Linked DNA regions of Homo sapiens: all the other regions are linked to region 3. Evidence: fine-mapped expression QTL. A gene starts in region 3. Each other region holds a variant in brackets. All regions are shown on one strand. Distances are from middle to middle. Region 1 overlaps VIT (vitrin). Region 2 overlaps VIT (vitrin). Region 3 holds the start of VIT (vitrin). Region 4 overlaps VIT (vitrin). Region 5 has its middle 130 kb from the start of VIT.

Evidence for each region.
Region 1: its variant is fine-mapped to the expression of VIT in skeletal muscle (FUSION, PIP 0.95). The same link has a PIP of 0.9 or more in subcutaneous fat.
Region 2: its variant is fine-mapped to the expression of VIT in whole blood (TOPMed, PIP above 0.99).
Region 4: its variant is fine-mapped to the expression of VIT in tibial nerve (GTEx, PIP above 0.99).
Region 5: its variant is fine-mapped to the expression of VIT in nasal epithelium (TOPMed, PIP above 0.99).

The regions. Positions count from the first base shown.
Region 1 is chr2:36,771,573-36,776,676 of GRCh38, forward strand. It overlaps VIT (vitrin), which reads left to right. Exons shown (of 16, transcript NM_053276.4): 8 at 2,219-2,275; 9 at 3,430-3,495. The region is part of intron 1 of LOC124905990 (a long non-coding RNA gene); the gene reads right to left. Among named protein-coding and RNA genes, the nearest start is that of VIT, 77 kb to the left of the region's middle. The variant C/G (reference allele first, on the strand shown) is at 2,241.
Region 2 is chr2:36,800,891-36,805,994 of GRCh38, forward strand. It overlaps VIT (vitrin), which reads left to right. Exons shown (of 16, transcript NM_053276.4): 13 at 411-514; 14 at 4,548-4,774. The region is part of intron 1 of LOC124905990 (a long non-coding RNA gene); the gene reads right to left. Among named protein-coding and RNA genes, the nearest start is that of VIT, 110 kb to the left of the region's middle. The variant C/T (reference allele first, on the strand shown) is at 2,463.
Region 3 is chr2:36,693,633-36,698,736 of GRCh38, forward strand. VIT (vitrin) reads left to right here and starts at 3,075. Exons shown (of 16, transcript NM_053276.4): 1 at 3,075-3,341. All of the region lies in intron 2 of LOC124905990 (a long non-coding RNA gene), which reads right to left.
Region 4 is chr2:36,736,823-36,741,926 of GRCh38, forward strand. The region is part of intron 3 of VIT (vitrin); the gene reads left to right. The region is part of intron 2 of LOC124905990 (a long non-coding RNA gene); the gene reads right to left. Among named protein-coding and RNA genes, the nearest start is that of VIT, 43 kb to the left of the region's middle. RefSeq lists an enhancer at 289-984. The variant G/A (reference allele first, on the strand shown) is at 2,719.
Region 5 is chr2:36,819,331-36,824,434 of GRCh38, forward strand. No RefSeq gene overlaps it. Among named protein-coding and RNA genes, the nearest start is that of VIT, 130 kb to the left of the region's middle. The variant A/G (reference allele first, on the strand shown) is at 2,049.

The DNA of each region.
Region 1 (5,104 bases), 78 kb after region 3:
TTCACCAGGAATCAAGTAAGTACAAATTAAACAACAAAATATCATTTCTCAGCAACTCTCATTGGAAATCGATAATACACAGTTTGGATGAGAGTGTGGAGAAATGACCCAGAATTCACACTTCCAGGAATATATCCTAAGGTAATTATCAACCCGGGGTGAGAACAGATGCTGTTCATAATTTTTTAAAGGAGATAATTTACTTATTTATCACTAGAAGAATGGCTAAAGAAGTTACTATACAGGTAGTAAAATGTTGAGAAATATGTGCGCTTAGTGCCACAAGAGAATTGGCCTGGGGCAGATCATTCAGTCAAAGAAGCAGGCTACAAAACAGCATGGGAACCAATCTCATTTTTGCAACGTGTGTTGTACATGAGAGCATGTACATCCCACAGAAAAAGGGATACAACTCTGTATGCCAGAATTGTATACCAGTAACTGCTGGCTAGAGGATAAAAGGTGATTGCTTACTATGCATAGTATATCATCTTATTTTTACAGTAAGCCTATGTTATCTGCATAATTAAACAGAAAATAAGGCTGCTTTGAGGCTGGGCGTGGTGGCTCATGCCTCCCTAATTCCAACACTTTGGGAGGCCGAGGCAGGAGGATCACTTGAGGCCAGGAGTTCAATACCAGCCTGGGCAACAGAGCAAGACCCCTGACTCTACAAAAATAAAAAAAACTTCCGTGGCTCACGCCTGTAATCCCAACACTTCGGGAGGCTAAGGCAGGCAGATCACCTGAGGTCAGGAGTTCAAGACCAGCCTGACCGACATGGAGAAAACCCATCTCTAATAAAAATACAAAATTAGCCGGGCATGGTGGCACATGCTTGTAATCCCAGCTACTCGGGAGGCTGAGGCAGGAGATCACTTGAACCTGGAAGGCGGAGGTTGTGGGGAGCCGAGATCATGCCATTGCACTCCAGCCTGGGCAACAAGAGCGAAACTCCATCTCAAAAACAAAACAAAACAAAAACTTAGCAGAGCATGGTGATGTGCACTTGTAGTCTCAGCTACTCAGGAGGCTGAGGCAGGAGGATCACTTGAGCCCAGGAGTTCAAGGCTGCAGTGAGCTATGATCACACCACTGTACCCCAGCCTGGGGGACAGAGTGAGAGCCTGACTGAAAACAAAAAATAAACAAACAAACAAAGAAACCTACTTTGAAATTGTGTCAAATAATTGGAACATAGACAAAAAGAGTCAAAAGCTGATTTTGGATAACTCCAGTTCTAAGACAAATTGATATTTTTTTCCATGCCCTCTTGCTCTTCCCCTTCATGACATTTGGTTATTTCCGTCAGCTGGGTTTTACGTGCCTCTCTTTCCCTTCCAAAGGCTTTGCATTTCTCTTAACAGAATGTTTTATCTCCCTTCTCCCTTTTAAAACCTTGCTTTAGAGAAATTGCTCAATAAATAATGAATGTTGAAGTGTGTTTCCTTCGCTCACAGAGTAATTAACGATAACCCATTGTGTACCTCTAAAAATGATGAAAAGCTAATTCTATTTGCATCAATACCACGTTAACGCAGCTTAAGCAAATTGCTGAATGTTAAGTGACACTTCTACTGAAGGATTACTTCAACCTCCCCATGAGTGGCACAGTTGAGAATTATTGTAAGAATAATGAAGTGTAAAGAAATATGGCATTTGACTAAAAGATAGATACTTTGATAGTTGTGAAATACAAAGGTTATTATTACCTGTAGTTTTTAGTTGGTGTTTTAGGTTAAATACTCTTTTTTTTTTTTTCATTTGAATTCCTCTTCCAAGGCAGGTTTGGACTGCCCAAATATAGAGCTTCACCTTGTTTCCAACCTTGGTAATGTCTTGCTAGGTTGGATCATAGAAAGAATGAAAACAGTCAGGTTAAAATTTATTGGCCGGGTGTGGTGGCTCATGCCTTGGGAGGCTGAGGCAGGCAGATCACTTGAGGTCAGGAGTTCAAGACCAGCCTGGCCAACATGGTGAAACCCCATCTCTACTAAAAATATAAAAAATTAGTTGAGCCTAGTGGTACGCACCTGTAATCCCAGCTACTCGGGAGGCTGAGGTGGGAGAATCGCTTGAACCCGGAGGTTGCAGTGAGCTGAGATCGCACCACTGCACTCCAGCTCTGGGCATACAGTGAGACTCCGACTCAAAAATAAATAAATTAATTAATTAATTAAATAAAATTCATGCTCTGACCAGTCAAATGTCCTTACAGATCTCTGGTCCACTGCCACCTA[C/G]ACAAGCAGCCAAAACAGGCCCAGAGCTGATCCAGGTAAGACCTTAAACTCCCTTTCCAGCCACTGATGAAAGTTAAGCTTGTTTACATGCGGTTCCTCTCCACATCTTTGCCATTTAATTTAGATTTGGACAAGGACTATTAAACCACTTAGGCCAACAGAAGATGCCACTCAAGGGCCCAACTTCTAAGAAAACATGTAAAGAAGTGGTTAAGTAAGCAAAGCCCTGTCCCACTCTCTGTTCCCCTGAAGCGAGTCTGTAGAGGTTGTGATAGGAATGTCTCAGGATTCAGTAACCGGGCTCTTACAGACCTGAAAAGGGGCACTCTCTGGGGCTTATTTTTGAGGAACTACGGTAAAACACGAAGGGAAATTTGTATCATCTCCCAGGAAAGAGGATTTTTTTTCTCTCTTTTTTGCCTGAGTAATTCTATGCCACGGGGGACAGAAACACATTCTCTCTCCCCGGGAGTTCACCTATGAATTCTGAAATGCCCCTGGCTGTCTTCATTTCTGTATGGTTTGGCCGAAGAACTAGGAATCCAGCAAATTCTCTTCTCTGCAGCACTGTTAAGGCCTGCAGAGATTAGAAAGGAAAATCTAGCAGGGTTTGACGGTTTCCACAAACTCTACTCACAGCCCGGTCTATGAGCTGATAGACTTGGTGGAAGTATACCATTCCCTCTGAAGCCACAGGACACTAGGATCAGAAGCAGGTCTTCTCCCTGCTGGGGGATACTCGTCCACTCTCCACATGTTCTTAGAAACTGTAGGTTCTGTTTTGCTTGCTACTGGATAGGAACAGGGGCCCAATGGGCTCCTCTGGTCAGGGCGAGCAGCTTCTATGAGCTTCACAATTGCACCTTTGCCAATGCACATGCTGTTGTCCTGGACAAAAAGGCTTGAGAATGAGAACACTGGCCAGGGCAAGGACTCCAAGGCCATCTTAGGCCTCTACAGACTCGTGGGACTCTACAGGAGCCCAATCCATGGAGCACTGTTTCCTCCTGTCCCCTTGGCCAAGATTTTTGCCTCCTCTGCAACCCCCAGAAGTACAACCAGGCACAGAGAGCTCGGCCGACTTCCAAGGAAAATCTGAACTAAGGTAATTTTCACCGGGGGCAAAATAAGGAAAGAAAGCAGCCTGCTGGTTGTGTGTAAATCGGCTGACCCTGTGTAATCCCCTCAGGTATCCAAAGGCAAGATCCTTCAGGAGCTGCCTTCCAGAAACCTGTTGGAGCGGATGTCAGCCTGGGTAAGCTGCCCACTGCTTACCATCTCTGCTCCCTAGGAATTTGCTCTGTGGCACTTTGCAAACATGAGGACCTCCCCACACACTTGTTCTTGGCCTCTGCAGCTCAACTTCAGGTCACCAGAGTTTGGGAGCATGCTAAGATATTTTAACCTCGAGAAAATGTCTCTTTGATTGATCTGTTCTCAGTGCATCAAAGAGAAAATCTTTGTCAACGAAGACATCCAAGGGCTGTCATTACTTTATGTCTCCTCAAGAGGTTCCCTCACTAAGCAGCCTCTTTGCCTCTCTGCACCTACCAGGCCCATCCTCAGACAGTCCTCCAGGATAAAGCACAAATACCCAGATACAGCACATGGTTCGGATATGGCATGGGGGATGGTTGGCAAGGAGGCACATAACCTGATTTGCATCTTCAATTTTTTACTGCCTGACAATTTTGGGTTTGTTTCAATGCTGTATTCTGCTGAATGTATTTGGCCTCATTCCCTTTTTCTGAGTTTACCATCCTCCAGTTCTATAGCTCTGGGATTCTCTGTTTCTTCTCCATTCTCCTTTATGCTCCCAATAATGCCACTCTGTCTCGACCCACACAGATGTTCCTAGATGTTCCTTTACCTTCAAATCCTACCCAATTTCTGCTGCTTCTCTCCTCACCATCATCCCTGCAACTTTGCTCTGAGTGCCTCAGAGTCTCCCATGAACTCTCAGAGTGTTCCTGACTTAAAGGACTCCCCCAACACACTCTAGGTGCTCAGACCTAGACTAGCTATGAAGCTCCATTATGGCTCCTACAGGGGAAGGAAGCCATTTGCACACCCTGAGTAAAGGCAGGTAAGAACATTTGGAGTTCTTAGATATCCTTCGACCAACTCTCATCTCAGATGCAGTCATGTATACAAGGCAAGCTGCCCAGTTCCTCAGCTATAAAATCGTCAGATTATGGAATTGGAAAGAATTGTATAAAGTACATCTGGTCTAACTTCTCACCTGAAAATGAATCACTTATGGTGTGCCAGACAGAGGCCTTTACCCTATATCGAATAACTTCAAGTGGTAGGGAATTCCCAGCCCCTTCATTTGGTGGGTGGCACTATTAGACGTAACTATCCAGAACTTCAGCTCCTCATTACTAATTTGTCTAAACCAGTGGTTCTCAAAGTGTGGTCCAAAGACCCCGCTTTCAGAGATTCTGTGACATCTTCCCTTCTCTGACTACATGTTGTTGTGAGGACAGATTTTCTCCACATATTTCAACAACAACAACATATCACAACTGACTGCAGGAGCTGATAACAGACTCCAGCTATCTTCTATTATGATAGACATTGGAGACATTTGCCACTCTTCTCACTGAAGCCTTGGTTTTAGAAAACAGTTTTTTTTCAGTAAAAATTAACGCTTACATTAAAATATAATAATTCTATTGTCACTTTGAAGTAAATTAATAGTTAGGCCGGGTGCGGTGGTTCACGCCGGTAATCCCAGCACTTTGGGAGGCCAAGGCAGGTGGATCATTTGAGCTCAAGAGTTCGAGACGAGTTTGGCCCACATAGTGAGACCCCGTCTCTATTAAAAATACAACAATGAGCCGGTGGTGCGTGCCTGTAAT
Region 2 (5,104 bases), 110 kb after region 3:
AGCTGAGATTCTCTTTCTGGAGAGGGGGGTCTGGGGTAGGCTGAGAACGCTGAGCACTCCACAGATGGGATCCTGACATTTGCAAAATCCCACTTGACAACAGTCCCGTTCATTAGCAATATGGGTGTTATAACGATGTTTTCATCTACATGAGGAATCTGAAGCCCAGAGAAGTTGTCTCCTCAAGATCACACAGCCAGGAAATGGCACAGTCAACACACGCCTTCTGAGCCTTGAAATAGCCTCCTTTTCTCTACACACACCAGTCCACAATGGGACATTTTACAAGGCATAGCAGAAGGCTTTGAAGCAGCTTCTATTTGTATATAAAAGAATCAACCATGATCTCTGCCTTCCTCCAAAGGTATTAACTTTGCAGCTAATTTGTATTTCTTGTTCTGACTCTTCAGAGACAACCCTGCTACTCACTTTAACCTCAAGACACACACGAATTCTCGAGATCTGAAGACAGCCATAGAGAAAATTACTCAGAGAGGAGGACTTTCTAATGTAGGTATGTGATCCGGATTCAAATTATACTATCTTGCTACCATCGTTCTCTTTCTACGTGATTGTCTTCTAACCATTCTATATAAAAGGAAAAAATAATAATAATCCGTCAAGAAATAACTTCTGGTCGGGCGTGGTGGTTCACACCTGTTATCCCAGCACTTTGGGAGGCTGAAGCTAGCAGATCACTTGAGGTCAGGAATTCAAGATCAGCCTGGCCAGCATGGTTAAACCCTCTTTCTACTAAAAATACAAAAATTAGCTGGGTGTGGTGGCGGGTGCCTATAATCCCAGCTACTTGGGAGGCTGAGGTTGCAGTGAGCCAAGATGGCGCCACTGCACTCCAGCCTGGGTGGCAGAGCGAGACTCCATCTGAAAAAAAAAAAAAAAAGGACAAAGAAATTACTCCTGCAACATCTATATCTTTTCTAAAGTTATCATGGCTTCAGAGGGCAAGAATCTTTAACACACACACACTGTACAGTCCCAGCATGCTTGGTTTGCAAGAAGGGGTAGCATTCTTCAGGGCAATCAAGTCTGCTGTCCTGACTATTTTTTTGTTGGCCTACAAGTCATCACTTGTTTCATTAAATTTTGTGACCAGTTAAGGAAGCCCCTCAGTGCCCCTTGAGAATCTTGTTCCAATCAACTACCGTTGTAGTGATGATTGTGCAAAGAGAAACATGTTCTCTGTTTCAAGCTAGGTCTTCTGTGATATCTGAGCCTTTGGGGTCTCACCAGAAATCCAAAGTCTAGTCCTCAGTGGGGCATGTCCAGAAATTCCATTTTATGTTTATCCAGAGTTGATTGGCCATTAGGAAACAGTTTCACACTAACCAAGCTCAAAGACTGTCAAAGAGCCCATGCCAGTGTATTCATTTGTAAATGAAAGATTGGCTTTTTGGGCACTGGAGGGAGACTGTCCACCTCTCGGGGAAAGTGTTTCTGTCATCAAAATCCAAAGAAATGGAGTCATGAGCCACAGTTGCTTGGCTTAGAGTACATGCAGGGAATTGAGCTGTCTTTGAGGGAGCATCCTCAGAGTTACAGTAAATCCGATTAAAGATTTCCCTTCCCACTTCAGTGTATGTCTCTATAGTGACCAGAACATTAGTATCTAACACATACAGAGCTTTTCACCTTTGAACAATGCTAAATAAACACTAGCCAAGTCACTCTCCATGCCCCCAAAGCAGTATTACCTTCATCACACACATGACAGAGTTGATTTCTGGTTTGTTTATAACTTAATGCTTACATTAGTAAAATCCCAGTGGAGACAAATGTCAGAAGGCACTCTCGTTCCTTGACGAGGTTAGCGATGGGTCTCAATCCAATCAGCATACGTTTTTCAGTGGATGACATGTTCTGACTTTGCCTCTGTATTGTCCAGAGTTTGGGTTCTGAGGACAGAATCCGTTCAACTGATTCCAACAGAAAGGGTTGGAATTTCAGGCTATTAAGTAGTTTGGAGAATCACTGTAAGAACTGAAGAAGCAGACTGTAGGCTGAGCTTTAAGAGATGATGTCTGAAGGCTTCCTGCAGAAGTAGGACCTCCAAGGGAGCTGCTCCTTCTTCCAAGATTAGGAAATCACTTTCTGAATTTTGCCATGGCAACCTCTTCAGAAACCTGCTTTGTCCAGGAAGCCAGCAGGATCAGGAGATCAGGAAGCTTCTTCTAGAGCTGCCAGCTCCAGAACCACGCCCTCCCTGTGCCATTCACACCCACAACATGGATCTCCACACCCTGCCGCCCCAAACCACTGCAGCTAGCAACCAACCCCAAGCACCTCTGCGGACAGTATCCCAGAGAAGTCAGATACTAAAGATATTTGTCAGCAGAAATATAAACAAAAGTACAGCCTCTGCCTCACTTTTATCTTCTAAATCTCATGCAAGTGCATCAATTCATGGAACTAAAACAAAGCTAAATCCCTAGCTGCAAGGGAGT[C/T]TGGAAAATGTAGTTTTCTGATTTCCAGCCTCTATTTTCAAGACCCACTGGAAGGTGGATGGAATGTGTGTTGAGCACTATACACCATGGCCTCCAGATATAAGGTTAGGTGGGGTTGAGGGGATCTTCTCATGGCGTCTTGTGCTCTGCCCTATAGGTGCCTAATATTAGGCCAGAGAGGACTTCCGGGTGCTTTGTGCTTTGGGAAAAATTGTCCATTGGCTATAAAAGCAATTCTTAGCAGCCAAGGTTTTTCCTTAGCAAGTGGGTTCTGTGCAGCCAGTTCACATGGGTTTTCCAAGACATTTCTGCAGCATCTGTATATGTAACCATTTGATGCTCTCATTTGACAAGTAAGATAATACCAGCTAGTGGAGACAGGATGCTGGCCAAAATCAGAAATGCATTGAGTATAATACTACTAATCCTAAAGTCTAAAGAAGGTGCTTCTTAACTTTTATGGAGATTGAGGACTCCTTTGAGAATTCCGTGAAAGCTATGGCCCTTCTATCCAGACAGATACTTATATACACAAAATACTGTGTATAATTTCAAGTGCCCTGGGGTTCACAGAGCCCAGGTTAAGAGCTCTGCCTACTCTATACAGCCATGCTGACTCTAGGGTGAACGGTCATCCCAGTTTTCCCAGAAAAACCTGGGGCTTTCAGTACTAAAACTGGGAAAGTCCTGGCAAACTGAGACAATTGGTCATTGTCTAGTTGACTCTGAAAATTTCCTGAAGCCCTTCTCAGTGTGAAATATGCACTTGGAAAAGTCATGGCAGGAGGCTTTGTAGCACTTCATGGCTGCTGCACTCAGCTGAAGTAGATTGCTGTTATGGAAAGCTAGGCCCAGAGATGTAGGGTGACCTACTCAGGGCCACACAGCTAGCAGGTAGCACAGCCAGGGCTAGAACACAGTCTGTCAGTTCCCAGTGGGTGCAACTCTTCCCTGCCCAACCAGACCTGTGCCCTTGGCCTGGAACTGGAGGAAAAACACTCCTGACCCCAGAACACAGCTCTGTACAGCCAGCAGGAGCCTCAGGCTCACCCCAGGCTGCAGGGGGCCAAGAAGAGGCTACTGTCACTCCAGGTCAACTCCTCCCACCCTACACTCTTGGAAACAACATGGGGCTGGCTTAGGGGCTTAGTGTGGGTCCAGCAGAAAAGGGGCACTTCTGTTCGCATGAAAGTCTTTGGCCAGGCACGGTGGTTCAAACCTGTAATCCCAGCACTTTGGGAGGCCGAGGCAGGCAGATCACAAGATCAAGAGATCGAGACCATCCTGGCCAACATGGTGAAACCCCATCTCTACTAAAAATACAAAAATTAGCTGGGTGTGGTGGTGCGTGCCTGTAGTCCCAGCTACTTGGCAGGCTGAGGCAGGAGAATCACTTGAACCTGGGAGGTGGAGGTTGCAGTGAGTCGAGATTGTGCCACTGCACTCCAGCCTGGCAACAGAGTGAGAATCTGTCTCAGGGAAAAAAAAAAAAAGTCTTTCTCACCTGCTTGCTGTCCCTAAAACTTTCTTCAAAGCGGAGACAATTAGAAGTTGAAGGCTTGAAATGAAACCAAAATGGACAGTGGTAACGGCTGCACATTGTGAACGTACTTAATGCCACTGAATTGTACACATAAAAATAGTTGAAGTGATTTTAAAAAAGTAACAGGCCGGGTGCAGTGGCTCATGCCTGTAATCTCAGCACTTTGGCAGGCTGAGGTGGGTGGATCACTTGAGCCCATGAGTTTGAGACCAGCCTAGGCAGCATGGCAAAACCTCGTCTCTACAAAAAAAACACAAAATTAACCAGGTACAGTGGCACACGCCTGTAGTCCCTTCTACTCAGGAGGCTGAGGTGGGAGGGTTGATGAAACTCAGGAGGTTGAGGCTGTAGTGAGCTGTGATCGAACCACTTCATTCCAGCCTGGGCAACAGAGCAAGACCCTGTCTCAAAGGAAAAAAAAAAAAAAAAAAACTAGGGAGGGAATGAGTGTATTTTTCTGGACCTCTTTGTGCTGCTGTGATCTCTTCCTGTATTTATAATCAGCGTGATCACTCCAAGCATGAATTTTCTTTTTCTTCCAGGTCGGGCCATCTCCTTTGTGACCAAGAACTTCTTTTCCAAAGCCAATGGAAACAGAAGCGGGGCTCCCAATGTGGTGGTGGTGATGGTGGATGGCTGGCCCACGGACAAAGTGGAGGAGGCTTCAAGACTTGCGAGAGAGTCAGGAATCAACATTTTCTTCATCACCATTGAAGGTGCTGCTGAAAATGAGAAGCAGTATGTGGTGGAGCCCAACTTTGCAAACAAGGTAGATGACTGCCCGGAGACCTACCCAACATCAGGATTTTCTGCACTCTGAAAAATTGTAACGCCGTTGCAGTGGTTTTCCCATGCCTTTAAATGTGCATGAAGCTCATCTCTAGGCAGTAAGGCCTCCAGGGAGGGACTGGTCAATCCGAAACCTGCAATTACCCTCTCAAAGCAAAACCCCACACCCACCAGCAGCTGTGGAGGAGCAGTGTACTCGAATTCTCAGCTAGGTTCTTCCTTGCTCCTTCCACAGCCCCAGGGGGGGTCTCACCCAGGCAGCCCAAGGAGCCTTTACACATGCATGCAAGCGAACATACTCTCTCTCTCT
Region 3 (5,104 bases):
AGTCCCAGCTACGCGGGAGGGTGAGGCAGGAGAATGGCGTGAACCCGGGAGGCGGAGCTTGCAGTGAGCCGAGATCGCACCACTGCACTCCTGCCTGGGCGACAGAGTGAGACTCCAACTCAAAAAAAAAAAAAATCAAGTAGTAAATATTATTAAAGGACAATAAGTACTAGAGAGAAGAATAAAACAGGGAAGAGGAAAAGGAAAGGCTTGGAATGTTGGTGCCATTTTAAACAGGACAGCCAGGAAAGGGCTCACTCAAGAGGTAACATTTGAGCCTAGATTTTAAGAAGGTGAGCATGGGAGCCACGCAGATATCCGAGAGAATACTTCGGGGACAGCACGTACGAGGGCTCCAGGCCTTTGCTTCCAGCTTCTGAACAGTACCTCGTGGTGTGCTTCTCCCATACTTAACTCATGAATTCTCTGGTCATGGACTTCTAGTGGCCCTGTGTGAGAAGCTCACTGACGAATATACCCCCAGAAAGAGGTGGATGGATCCTGGGGTACACAGGTAATTCAACCAAGTACTTCTGGATTTTCCTCTAGAATAGCCACATTTGTCTTCACCAGTAGCAGCTCATCATGGTTATGACATGTCTGCCATGATCTTTCTTCAGATTTCTAATTTTTGCCAAGATGATGAAAACAAAATGATATGTCATTGTTTTTTAAAAGAGAATGGCTCCTTTTTTACCATTTTTAACTGTGGTAAAAAAAATGTAATAAAATTTGCCATTTTTTCCATTTTTAAGTGTACAATACAGTAGCAGTAATTACATTCATAATATTGTGCAACCATCACTACTATTTCCAAAATTCTTCATCACTGCAAGTGAGCATCTCTTCATATGCTTTTCAATACATTTATATTTGATTTTGCCTTATTTACCATAAGAAAACAAGTTAAACTATTATAGTAAAAGAAAAGAAGCTCTAAGTCTTAATAGAGCACCATTGCTTTGGAGTCAAGAAGCCTTGGATTTGAATCCAATATCTTGCCTTATTGGCTGCATGACCCTGGGAAAGTTGCTTAATCTCTTTAGGCCTCAGTTCTCTTATCTATAGAATGGAGATTATACTACTAATCCTTCTACATTCTTCTAAATATTAAATGTAATGATATATGTACAGGGTTGCTGTCCTTAGTAAAAGTAAGTATTTGATAAACAGCAACTAGCATTATTATTATTATTATTATTATTTTTTGAGACCAAGTCTTGCTCTGTCAACCAGGCTGGAGTGCAGTGGTGCGATCTCGGCTCACTGCAACCTCCACCTCCCAGGTTCAAGTGATTCTCCTGCCTCAGCCTCCCGAGTAGCTGGGATTACAGGCACCCGCCATCACACGCCTGGCTAATTTTTGTATTTTTGGTAGAGATGGGGTTTCACCATGTTGGCCAGGCTGGTCTTGAACTCCTGACCTTAGGTGATCTGCCTGCCTCGGCCTCCCAAAGTGCTGGGATTACAGGCTTGAGCCACCGAGTCCAGCAGCATTAGTAGTAGTAGTATTAGGAATAATGTGATTATGAATTATGCTTAGGCTGCCATTCTGAACCTGCCCTAATTCAAGTGGTAGGACAGGGGATCCTCAGTGTTACAGCATTATCATCCTTACCACCAAAGAACCTGGGCTCAGAATTTAGTGGAGGAATAAAGAGGATTGAGAAATAATTTCATTGCAGAACCAAAAGAAGTAAGGGTAAAAATGATTAAATAACATTCAAATCATTATCTCCCTTTTTTTAGTCTTCATGTTCCTTTAATGGAGGAAGATTCCTGATCAGTGTACAGTGATGTATTTATTTAACAGTGACCTGTGCAGAAATTACATACTATCCATCTAGATAGCTTGCTACACTTCGCCTATTGATGGAATCATTCCATTTATCAAGTTTTATACATCAAAAAGCTTTGAATTTCATCAGGCTCTTCATTAATTCACCTCTGAAAAAGTGGCATTTAATTTCAGCTACCATGTTTTATAGCATTAAAAAGCTTATGCATCTCTGCACAATGGCATTGAGCAGATGAATCCCACCCAGATTCACATAGTCACATTTGAGAGCTTTAGACCAGAGAGCTGGGCCAAAGTTACTCCTAATCAACACAGACTTCTTACCGTGAGAGCCTATCTTCTCGGCCACATTTTATATAGCCAATGAAGACGTGCCAGCAATCATCCCATGTATAACTTGGCATTAGAGCACAAGATCTGTCAAACAATTATCTTAAATAAGGAGCAGTTCCAGGGCCAACAGATGAGGACAGGAGGCTTCTCGAATGGAAGAAGGTTCTCCTCCCTAGCTGCGTGAGTGCACACTCCCCAGCAGGAGGAGGAATGACTCTTTGCTACCTTCTCCTGTGCTTGAAAACAGATGCTCTGCCACACTGATGGACACTGGAATCTCAAGATCTGCCAGATGTACTTTTTTTTGGTCTGATTTTTTTTTAATGATGTGATACGTTAATACACATTTTGAATCTGAATCTCTTAGATTTCATTGATGACACTAATATATAAATAACTAAAACTGGCAGATTTCATGTGAGATTATTCATCAGTATTTTTTTTGAAACATGAGTCAGGTTTTGCTTCCCACTATGATTATCTTGTGTCCTGTAACTACCAGCATATAATTGAGTCATTTCATAAAACTTGCCAAAACGCAGAAAGGACTGAAGCAAAACAAAACAAAAAAATAGCATTAATATGTAGGAAAAAGTACATATTTTCAATTCAAAAGTGGGAGTCCAGTAGAATAAGTTTGAGAGTGTTTGCACAGTTTTCCTTCTTTGTGCAGTTCAGTCCAGCTGTTCACTAGCTTTTGAAAAAGAAAGAAAAAATTGAATTGCCCCTGCTGAAGTAATTTTTAAAACATATCTTTTACTTTCCATTTTTATCTAAGTGGTCCTCCTCTACTTTTTAGAATGTCAAATTGTAGAATTTGCTTACTGAAAGTTTGTGCTTTGGGCTACAAAAGAATATTTAGAAATCCTTACAAAAAAAAAAAAAAAAAAAAGCAGTGGGAGTGGAAATTTGAAAGAGGACCGCCTAATTCAGCACTAAAACCAGTGTGAGAAGCAGTATGTGTGAGCATGTGTGTGTGTGTATGTGTGTGGGGGGGGGTGTAAAATGTGTTTTTCAAAGTACTGAGAGGTTGATGGGACTGTTCGATTAGCTCCTCTGAGAAGAAGAGAAAAGGTTCTTGGACCTCTCCCTGTTTCTTCCTTAGAATAATTTGGATGGGATTTGTGATGCAGGAAAGCCTAAGGGAAAAAGAATATTCATTCTGTGTGGTGAAAATTTTTTGAAAAAAAAATTGCCTTCTTCAAACAAGGTATGTCTGATGAATTTCTAAGCTGTGTATATAGTTACTTTCCATTCATTATCATTGAAACGTATTTGTCTTTAAGAAACTACAATACAAAGCTTGACCGAGTAAGCAAATTTCAGTTTCAAGAGAGTTGAGATGAAAGTGGATGGTACTTGGCATCCTTGTAAACAACTAGTAATATACATATATATTTATCAATTATAAATAAACTGCATTGATATTAATATTATAACAAGATTTTTACTGTTCCTTTAAACCAATTTAATTATGGTTACAAATAAGTTGAAAAGTATGACATTTGTGTAGAATTTTAAAGTAATTTAAGTCTCTATTATCTTGCTTTTTTAAAAACTTTGCTTGGAATATGTGGAATGTAATAGCAATATAGCAAATTGCTTATAAAGATTGTGAATGGCAGTATGAGAAATGGGCACATTGGTGCTAACTTAAAAGAGAAACTATTTCGTGTGGATCTCTACTTCTCTCTATTCAGACAGATTTCAGTGGAATGTGGCTAGATGTGCGATTCTGTGTCTTGTTTACACTTAAAGTGTTTTCTTAGGCTGAATGCTTCTGTTACTGATAAGCCCAACAAGGGGCTGGCATTGTTAAGTCTGCCATCGTAGCTCAGCTTTTCACAGGAAGACAGGATATGAAATCTCTTTTAAGTATGATTTGTGTCCAACTAGTATAAACATGAAATAAACGCCTCAAGCACAGGTTAAAGAGAGAGGATAAGACTGAATAATTAGACATGACAGTTTTCTCCAAACAACCCACAGCATCTTTGCCATTCCTAAATCAAGAGTGGAATTAAAAATTTTCTTTGGACTTATTGTAAAAATAAAAACAAGCATTCTTGGCCGTGGTGGTTGCTCAAAATTGCGTGTGCTAAGAAAATAGTATTTTGCCGTTACGTTGTGTTGCAATAAATTTGGAAGTTTTGGTGGTAAAGTTCTGAGGTTGTTTTTCCCTTGGTCTCTTGAAAGATGAAAACACCCTGCAGCAAAGCAGGATCAAACACTGTTTGTTTGTGTATTTTCTCTCTATGTGTGTTAGCTGCAAGTGGTAGCTAGTGCTGGTAGGAGAGCTGGAAGTGCCCATCTTTTATTTATTGAATTAAAATACCCTCTTTTGTACAAAAAGCTTTAGACAAAGAATTACAAGATTGCAAAGACTTGCATTTTTTTATTGCAATATGCTGGTTTCCCAGACTAAGCTTCATTTAAATATATCTTATGCCTCACCACTAAAAAAAATAAAAATACCTTAGGAAGATTGGAAATGCTTAATATCTATCCTAAAACTGTTTAATTCATGAATATTGTTAAGAAGATCTGTCTTTTCCACCAAGTTACTGATCACATGAAGAATAGTTTCTTTCAGAGAAAATACATGAGGTTTGAGAATGGTTCTCAGCTATGATTCCTATAAGACACATTGAATACAGGAAAGCAGTATGGTTCAATGCATGCGCCAAGCCAGGAGTCCTAAATTATAGTAACAGCTCTGCCACTACCTATTACCTTGGAAAACATATATAACATTTCTTGACTTTTGTTTCTCTCTTTGGAAAACAGAAATAGCAATGCCTGTACACCCTCCCTCCCAGGGCGGCCACAAGGGTCAATAGTGGTTCTCAGCTCCAAAGGAGTTTTGAAATGTCAAAACTTCTATAGCAATGTAATCTTGGCCTGGCGCAGTGGCTCACACCTGTAATCCCAGCACTTTGGGAGGCCGAGGTGGGTGGATCACCTGAGGTCAGG
Region 4 (5,104 bases), 43 kb after region 3:
TTTTCATAAGTCCATAGTAAGTCACAAATGCATTTAATACCCTGAAAAACCTTTCATAAAGTTGAAAAATCTGAAGTCAAACCATTGTAAATCAGGGACTGTCTGTATTTACCACGTATTACTCTAAGAGCTTTTTTTATACAGTCTATCTTCCCAGCAAGACCAAAAGTACCATGAAGATCCAATTAGTGCTCATTAGGTATGGACAAAGGAACAACAACAAAAGCCACTATAAAATAAAGCAAAATGTGGTAAATTCTATAGGAGAATAACAAACAAGGAGTCTACAATAGGACTCCTATTGGTCTTATGAAAGAACATTCAAGATAAGACCTGAAAAATAAGTGAATTTTTACAGGCAGAGGTTGGGAAAGGGCTTTCTAGGTGGACTAAGCCCACATACCATGGAAAACAAGTGGAGGATGAGGTCAGGAAGCAGTGAAAGGCAAGGTTGGGTTTAAGCACTGAGGAGTCACGGAAATGCAGCTGGAAGGTGGATTAGGACCCACCAGGCAACACCAATCTGAGAAGCTTTTTTTCTTTGTCATTCACTAGAGGGCGGGGACTCCTGAGAGTTTTCTAAGCAGGAAATTTACATGAGGAAGACAACAATCAGTGAGATAAACACGATATTCTCCACAGGCAGTAGAGCTACATTCTGAAATATTTCCATTTACTTTGGAGTCTGTTGAAATAGACTTAATTTGGGGTGAAATGTACAACATGTAGTTCACATAGTTCTCTCCAATGAGTTAATCTTAATACCTTGTAAGGCATGGAAAGATTTTTGCAATCAACCTTGAAAGAGTAGATGATTCCTGAACCTACTGCCTTGGGCATGAAGAGGTCATTGTTCTGGGACTTAGTTACTTAATGCATTGGACACTGATGAAGAGAAATACGACTCCATGGTTGTAAGATTTGGTATAGCATGCACACAGCTTCTTGGGTAGGTTTATGTGTAGCAACTTGTAAGTAATCCCCAGTGTTTCTTGCTTCTTAGACACCTGGCGCCAACACCAGTGGGTTCTCCACACAGATTGGTTTGTGGGCCCTTTCTCAGACCATGAAAAAGGAAGAGGATTAACTTTCTAGCCCTTCTTCTGATATGGGTGAGAAAGAAGGCAGAGACTGTCTGTGTTACAGATTTTCAGTTGAGTAGACTCTACCCTGGCAATTCTCAGAAATAACGGGAAAACAGTACAATGGAAAATTACGCTAGAAGAGTTACTTTGCAGGTATTTGGGGTAAATGCACAGATGCATGCATGTATTCACATAAACACACACACACATGCATACACACAACCTATTTGTAAGATATATACTGCATTCACCCACTAGTGGTTGTCAGCAATCTTCAAGTTCAGAAAAGCCTGTAAGATTAGACTAGAGAAGCTGCAGTTTAACTTCTTCCCTTCAGTCATGGAAGTGGCAACCAGGTGGAGCTGGCAAAGCTTTGGGTTTATAGGCCTGAGTTCAGGTCTTAGTTCTGCCACTTGATATCTGAACAATTGTTCAATTGTTAATTGAACAAATTAACTTGCCTCTCTGAAAAATGAAGACTAATGCCTTTTAGGGTTTTGTAAGGACCAAATGAAAGAACCTATATTAGGGTCCTTTGTAAACTAAAATATGTATTTTTAGAGACACAAACTTCTGCAGCTGCCCCAAAACTGTGTTGCCACAGGCCAGTTACCCTCTGTCATCCAATCACTCCATCCATTCATTTATTCATTCAGCAGACATTCTCTTGAACAGCAGTGAACAAAACAGACAAAAGTCCCTGCCCTCATGAATTTTATATTCTAGTAGATGAATGAAGATGTTAACTGGAACTGGGACCTAAAAGATAGTAACATTCAAACAGATGAAAGGAAAAAGGGTTTCAGAGGTGAGAAATGATTCAAGCTAAGTGTGCGAGACAACATGCATTTAGAAAGTAAAGACTTTATTGGCAAGTATTGGCAAGCCTAGACGTTCCATGGAAGAAACTATGGAATGGCCTTAAGGATTTTGGAATTTTTCCTAATGGCAGCAAAAACCTAGTGGTGGTTTTTGAGCAAAGATTCAATGTGATCAAAGATTGTTTAAGAAAAATGGATAAGAATGCTTTGCAAAAGAGGGTGCTTCAAAGGAAGAATTAAAGTGACCTAGATATCAGGATCAAGGAGAACAATGCATTCATCTTCAAATTAATGATATTTTTATTTCATTAAACTGAGGACTTTTTGCATAATTCTCTTAAAAACAGGATTTTACTCTAGTTGAATATCACAGTGCAACAAAATTAAGTTTAATATTAAAAGTTTTCATACATAAGTGATTTTTTTTATGTTATAATTCTTCTTCATTAAAAAAATAAAAATAATAATTCTTCCTTATTAACAGGCATGAGGCAAGCTTACGATAATTGCTTGTTGATAAGGAAACTTGTTCTCCAGAAGCAATGTGGCTTGCCTGGGATTACTGAAAAGATGAGTGGCAAAATAAGGAATCTGCAGTTTGATTTGGCCTACTACATAATCGGCTTGCTGTATGTGACATCATCTAATAATCACTGTTATTAGCCTAGGCAGGAGACCCAACCAACAGAAGAAATATTTGCAGTTCTTCCTCTCAGATTCCAATTTTGTACTAAAAATTGACTCAAATAGTACCAGTTGTCTGTTCTGAGATGAGACCTTTTGCCCAGGAACCCTTGTGAGATCACTACAGC[G/A]GACACATGAACCTCAGTGACCTAAAGGTAATCCTACAGTTCGATCTGGTTTGCAGGTGGTTCTCTTTTCCCTGTGGCTAGTTCCAAGGGCCTTTGGGAAGGAACCCTTGGCAGATACTGAGGTGCTCTAATGTGATTTCTGATACGAAAGTGAGAGCGTCTATGAGAAGGCAAGATTATCTTAAGGAATCATATGAGACGGTGGGTGGGTGGGGTCGCAAAGGGAGAAGCGGAGCAGGTGGCCAAGCAACAGGTTTCTGTGCAAAGGTGCCACTCAAGAGGTCTGGGCTCCCCACGGCTCTCTGTGGCTTTGGTGTGGACTTTCCCTCACGGACGCTAGCAACTGTCCAGTCCGGAAGGAATGGAAGAGGCTTTTGTCTTGCTTTCTTCAAAGGTTCCAGAATAAGTTCTTTTTAGAACTTACAAATAATTTTTCACCTGAGGTTAGCTGTGGGGACACAGCATTCCCCTCTGACTGTTCTGGCATTTGCCAAATGTCTTCCCGCTCCCTTTAGACCTACAACTGATACTTCTTGAGCTGCCTTAATTTTAGCTTATCTTCTTAAGGAAATCCGATTTTCTGCACTTTTAGGATCAAACTCAGAGAAGGGGGAAGGGAGATACGAATAAACCTTAACAACCAAAGAAAGAGGAAGAAAGGAAAACCTAAGCTGCGAGCACTGAATAGTTCAAAGACCTTCAGAGGAAAGGCCAACATCCGTTTCATCTGGGCCTTAAGTGGAGCGGTGGAAGATTCTTTGGCTGTTACAAGAAAACAGACTACCTCACAAATAACTGGGAAAATATTGTAGAGAAACAAACCATAGTTTCCATATACTTAAAGAAGAGCTGCCAGAAAGATGCAAATGCCTGCTTTTTCCTGGCTGAACATAGACATTACACTTTTTAATAATTTTGGCAATCACTCTGCAAAATTTAACTAGTTCACTCTCTCCAGCTTAATTTTCTGTACAAATTTAACAAATTTTTTACCTTTAGCCACACTTTACCGTGGCTCCCTGTTTTTTCAAAGTGCATGAACACACGTGCCTGATTTCATTTTTTTCCCCCGTGGGACAAATTAATGAGTGAATCCACCAATTTTGCTAATCTGGTTAGGTGCAGATAAAGCAGATCTTATTTAAGGTACTTCCCTGACATTTGTAAGGGGAAAAAAAAAGACAAAATAAACAAGCAAACAAAAAACAAGTGCCCCCTTAAAGAAAGGAGGGAAAATTGATTAGCAGGAAGTAAAATGTGACATTTTCCCTTGTCTTTTAAACCAATTATTTCATGGAAGATCTTACTGCATGTAATATGTGCACCCAGAAGTCTTTCAACAGGTTTGATCATTGTCTAATACTCATGAAATAAGCTTCCAGATAGAGACTCGTTTACACAACCCCAAAATATTTAGTTGGTCTGACAGGACATTCAAAATCTCACAGTGCCAGAGTCACATCAAAATTTAATCTTAATGCACACAGCTTGTCACTTCCTATTTCAAAAAATTAAGAACAAAGAAGAAATCTTTCATTTTCTTTACCTCTAAGGGAGGAGATGCATTTGGGAGTGAGGAAGTGATCTGGGGAAAAGAGGAGAGTTGAACACACAGTTACATCCAGGAATCAAACAATTCACTAATTTGAAGAGAGACCACACTGGCATCTTCATCCCAAAATATGCCTTTAAAAAATACTCTGAGACTCATAATAGTAAATGCAGCCTTGAGTATCAGAGTTTAAAAGAATGAAAGGTAAAAAGAAAATAGCCGGCGAGGAGGCAACCTTTGATGGGGAGAATGAAACCACAAAACTGTTTGAAGCACAGCGCTCTACTTCTTAATGTAAACCACTAATTGCTTAAGCCTGTGATCAAACTCAACCCCTCGGTTCCCAGCAGAAGTTCCCTGTTGGCCCAGCCCTGAGTAGCAAAGATTGTCTGGGATGGGTGTTTAAGAAAAGAGCATAAAACTTCAGTTCTCTCTCCAGCCTGAATGAAATGCAATTCTCCTCATTCAGGTACACAAGGGTTAAAAAAGAATATGCTTTTTGGATACAGCTGGAAGCCATTAGCAACTCTGAGACCATCTCAGGAACCCAGTTAGAGGGTGGGTGGCCTGGCAGAGCTCCTGGATCCAAGAGTCTGTGAATTACAGACTCTTAGCATTGGGAGAGGTTTTATTCTACTCCTCACCCAATGTAGAAATCCTCTCTGTAACTGTTCAGTCTCCACTTGCATACTTCTACCAACACCCCACTCACTGCTTCCTGGGGCAGCTCAGTCCTTCACGGACAATTTCAGTTCCTAGAAAGTTCTTCTTGGCAAAATTTGCCTCTATAGAAAGTCTGTTCTTTAAGTTCTAGCTCACCCTCTGGCATCACAG
Region 5 (5,104 bases), 130 kb after region 3:
GTCTCAGTCCAAATGCTACTTCCTTTTTGGGGCCTTCCCTGGTTCCAAATAGACTTAGGCTCTCTGGATACAGAACCCTGACCCACCTATTCTCCAGAAACTTGATCCCTTCTCACGAGGAGACACAACCTATACACATCATTAAGGACATGGGATCCAGAAAATGAAAACTTTGACCCTAAGTCGCCTGATGGCGCCAACCACAGATACATTGGTACTGGTAGAATGCGAGGCAGACATTTCAGCAGGAAAGAAACAGAATATGATGGCAAGAGAAAGAGAGGCTCTTATTCCATCCAGACTACACCACCCTTCCCAATGCCCTCCTATTCATTATATGCTACAGTCATGGTTTTTCTAGGACCAGAATCTTCTTTGGGTATCTACCCATGGGGTAACTCTGTTCCTCACCTTATGTTCTCATTTCTCCTGCAGAAAGGCAAACTCAATTTTTTTTTTTTTTAATACACAGTTTCACTCTGTCACCCAGGCTGGAGTGCAATGGCACCATCTCAGCTCGCTGCAACCTCTGCCTCCTGGGTTCAAGTGATTCTCATGCCTCAGCCTCCCAAGTAGCTAGGGTTACAAGCGTACACCACCATACCCAGCTAATTTTGTTTTGTATTATTAGTAGAGATGGGCTTGGCCAGGCTAGTCTCAAACTCCTGACCTCAAGTGATCCACCCACCTCGGCCTCCCAGAGTGCTAGGATTACAGGCGTGAGACACCGTGCCCAGCCAGAAATGCAAACTCTTTTTTTTGTTTGTTTATTTTTCTGAGTTTTATTCAACAAACATGTTTTAGCTGTCTATTATATGCCAGGCATTGAGGTGGGCACTGAGATACGAAGAGGAATATGACTTGCTCCTACCCGAAGAAACTATAGGCTAGAATGAGAGAGACACAAATAAACAGATAATGTGACTGGTGAGAGGTGACTAATGTGATAGGTGACAAGCAAGCTTGGGAAATCTTCCTGGGCTAGGTTTTCTGGGAAGAGTCCATTTCTACCAGGCAAAGAAAAGTGGAAAAGGTGGTCCAGCAGAGAGAATGACAGAAGCAAAGGCAAGGAGGTATGAAACAGTGTCGGGCCCAGAGAGAATGACAGTGTGGAACTTAAGGCAAGGGGCCAGGAAATGAAGCTAGAGAGGCAGGAGCCAGGCCACCTAATGCTGTGATGGTTAAGGTTCTCTGGGCTGCAAGGAACAGAAACTCAATTTGTAGTAGCTCAGGCAAAAAGGCAATTGTTTGAAGATAACTGGAATAATTCATGAACTCTAGGATCAGGAAGACAGCAGAGTCTCAGGAACAGGACGAGGGACAGGAGCAGGACAGGAGAGCCAGGAACCCTCTCACTCCACCCTCCTCCAGGATGGTCTTCATCTGGAAGTAGGTGAACAACTCTGGAGAGAAGGAATAGAGTGAAACTTCCCTCCCCTTAGGGGCTGAGCCCACAATGCAGGCCCTTCAGCAAGGCCACCCAGCAATCCAAGCTGACGTGGCTGAAAGGAGGTGAGCACCCACATTCTTCTATCTGATCACCCACAACCTTTTGAAGTTCCTTGAAGCATCAAGTTGCTTTGAATGCCAATGAATGCATGTCCTCAAGTTTCTGAGTCTGGAAGGCCAAACGCAGGCTGAGTGATGGTCTTCCAGCTCTATAGTCTTCCTTTGTTTTGTTTAGCTTTACCATACAAAGCCAATGACCGTCTCTCTAAGACTCCCTTTCACTTCTCTTGCCTGCAATGACTACAAGATGTTACTTGTTATACACCATTAACTGCTGAAGAGCTATTCAGACTGCCAGGGCGGCAGATGTGATGCTTCTGGGATCCACTTCTGTTTCTAGTATAAAGGCTTAGCTGAGGAGAAATGTCCTATATAAATAACCATCCACATGGAAAACCAATAAGGTTCAAAGACCACAGTTTCAAGGAAGTCTTTGCTTTTTGTTTAATGTCCTTTAATTGAAAAATACTGAGCTGAACTTTATCCCTGCCATCCCTCTTACACAAACAGGTCCTGCGGGCAATAAGCTGCCCAAGTAA[A/G]CAAATACTCTATCCAGCTTGGCAGCTGAGATCCTGCTATAAAAAACACAATCCCCACTGAATAGCTCCTTTCTGCAACAACTCCAGCCTCACACATGGTTGAGGTGAGCAGGGTGTATTCAGGTTAACGGCAAACTGGAATCTGGGTTCTCAACAAAGAGCTCATACATGACTGTCCAGGGCACAGAAACTGGGAGGGTTCGTAAGCCATAGAAACTGTGCAAACGCCAGAACAAGACCCAAGACCAATTGAATTGTTGTTGGTCTGACATCCCCAAGGCATTCTTAAACCTGTACCCTGATACCATGATAATGATTTTTTTAATGACGTTAGTAACTCTACAAGTTCTCCTTGAAATCATAGTAAAAGGGAGTTTCTTTCCAACCCCAATAGGAGGGTTGTGCAGTGTTTTAAAGCCAAAGAGGGAACAGGGACAAATCAAAAGGTTGCAAACTTAGTAATGACTGTCTAAGACACACACCAAGCAAAACAAAGGAGCAGACGGAGCTTCCTAAAGGGCAAAGAGTCAGTGTAATTTGTTTTCTTCTAAGAAAACACCCTCATTGAACTGGATGACAACTGCAGTGTGGAAACTGCAGGGGACCTTTCCAGCTCTATGGCCTAAATGCAAGGCCTGGAACACCCACATGCCTGTTCTACCTTCAGACAGGGGGCATTCTCCTAAGGTGGAAAATCAACCTTTCATCCTGGAGACTTTCTAATCCTGGACAGTCAGTGAAGATCTCTGGAAGCAAAATACTAGTGGAGTTGTGTCAGCCTCAGCAGGGATTTGCCCACACGGACAGCAGCCAAGACTGTCCCAGAGGGGCCTGCAGGCTTGTTCATGAGCAGATTAGGGGCATCCCTCAGAGAACCCCCTAAATACTTGGTCCTGCAGTATGCCAGTGAAGACAAGCCAACATCACTGAGTAGTTATTGTCCATGTAACTTCGTTTGCACGGACAGACAGGCTGAAAGGCCTAGGGAAATTTTGGTGACAATAGTAAAACCAATCATTGATCTCAGTTATGAAGTCCCAAAGTGCCATGAACTGAACTAGCCACTGTATACACTTTGTCGTTGAATACACACAAAATTCATGTTGTTGAATAAATACATATTTCAAAACCATCCTTGTTCCATACTTCTTTTGGGAGAGATTGGTCTTGAAAGACAATCGAACATAATGGGAAGTCTGCCATGTGCCAAACATATTTTCACAATTCATTACAGCCTCAATTACTATTCAATTTTCCAATGAGAACAGTGAGACACAGAGAAATTAAGGAGTTGCCTGAGGTCACACAGCAGGTAGGACGGAGAGCTGGGCCATGAACCTGGGTCTCCTGACTCCGGATTCAGTGCTGTCTTCAGTACAGAATAGCCACCTTGCCCTGTCTGCTTTTTCCTCCCTGGTCTCATCAGCCACTTTTCTCTCAGCCCTGTTTCCCTCTTCCCCCAGCTGCCATCTTTCCAGTCACATATTACAGAACCATCTTTTCAGCTTTACACGTCTTGTGCCCATATTTTCACCCTGTTTTTCACCCTGCAACAGGGAGTCCCGGGTCCATGGGATTCCAGTGGCAGACTGGAAAGTTACTTAGAAGTTGTCAGTTGCCTTTTGCCCTCCATGTCCCTTGTCTTATTTCCCTGATCATTACATAAGGGTTGCTCGCCAGCTCAAGAGTTACTCCAGGCTCTGAAAATGGTTTCATACAGAACAAGGGGCAGAGACTATGCATGTTCTGGGCAGCTGAGGGGTGAAAAGAAAGAGCAGGAGTCCTTAATGTGGAAACCTCACTTTTAATTTTTTAAAAAAGTCATTTCATTAATGAATTGTTTTGAATTTCAAGGGACTCTGAATATTTTTAAAAACTAAGCATTTTAAAAACAAGTTGATCTGAGAAATTTTTCTTGACCAAACTGTAGTTCTATCTCAGGAGAGTTTCCTTGGGTGCAAGCCAGTGTAGGACGATGAGGCACCCTCCAATCCAGACTCCATGGTAAAAAGCTTTCCCATGTCCAGTTCCTTCCACAGAGCACAGTCAGGTGGCAGCTCTAGGGAAATGGCTCCGGCCCGGTACCCTGGCAACCTTGCATGCCTCCACGTAGGCCACGTGGACCAGGCTCCGCTGCAGTGGGACCTAAGTCTTGTTGGAATACCGTGATATCATCCCAGGAACATGGCGAGACATGTAGTTTGTGGGGAGCTGTCCCAAGGCCGCTGTCATCCATCTTTCTCTCTATCTTGTAGGAGGTTTCTCCAAAGCACTTTGTTTTTAGCTTTCCTGGTTTCAGTGAAGGCTAGGACTTTATACCTCGCTCCTCTTTACAGTACAGCTGCAGGCTTCTTTTTCCTTTTTCTTTTTTTTTGAGACAGAGTCTTGCTCTGTTGCCCAGGCTAGAGTGCAGTGGCACCATCTCGGCTCACTGCAACCTCTGCCTCCCAGATTTCAGCAATTCTCCTGCCTCAGCCTCCTGAGTAGCTGGGAGTACAGGCACATGCCGCCATGCCCGGCTAATTTTTGTATTTTAGTAGAGACGTGGTTTTACTCTGTTGCCCAGGCTGGTCTCGAACTCCTGAGCTCAGGCAGTCGGCCCGCCTCGGCCTCTGCAAGTGTTAGGATTACAGGCATAAGCCACCACGCCCACCCCAGCTGCAGGCTTTAAAATGTGTTCATTGATCACGCCACTGCACTCCAGCCTGAGCCACAGAGCAAGACCATCTCTCAAAAAAAAAAAAAAAAAAAATCATTCATTGCCTTCTAGAATTGGTATCCCACCACACATGACGTCCATCACCTGGCTCCTTGTTTTTGTGCTGTCCTGTGGGATGAGGGAGCTAGCATCATGCTGATCTTGCTTTTGCTGACTACATAAGTAATACACCGTCTGAATCCATTTGGGTCTATCATGTCTTTACCTGCCAAACCTGTGGCAGCGTGGCAAGCCCACTGCAGCAGTAATCACTGTTTATTAGGGGCTGCTTGACAGCAACTGTTTCCTGAGATGCCCTAGGAAGATGCCCTCCATACCACATTGTCTCCCAGGAGGC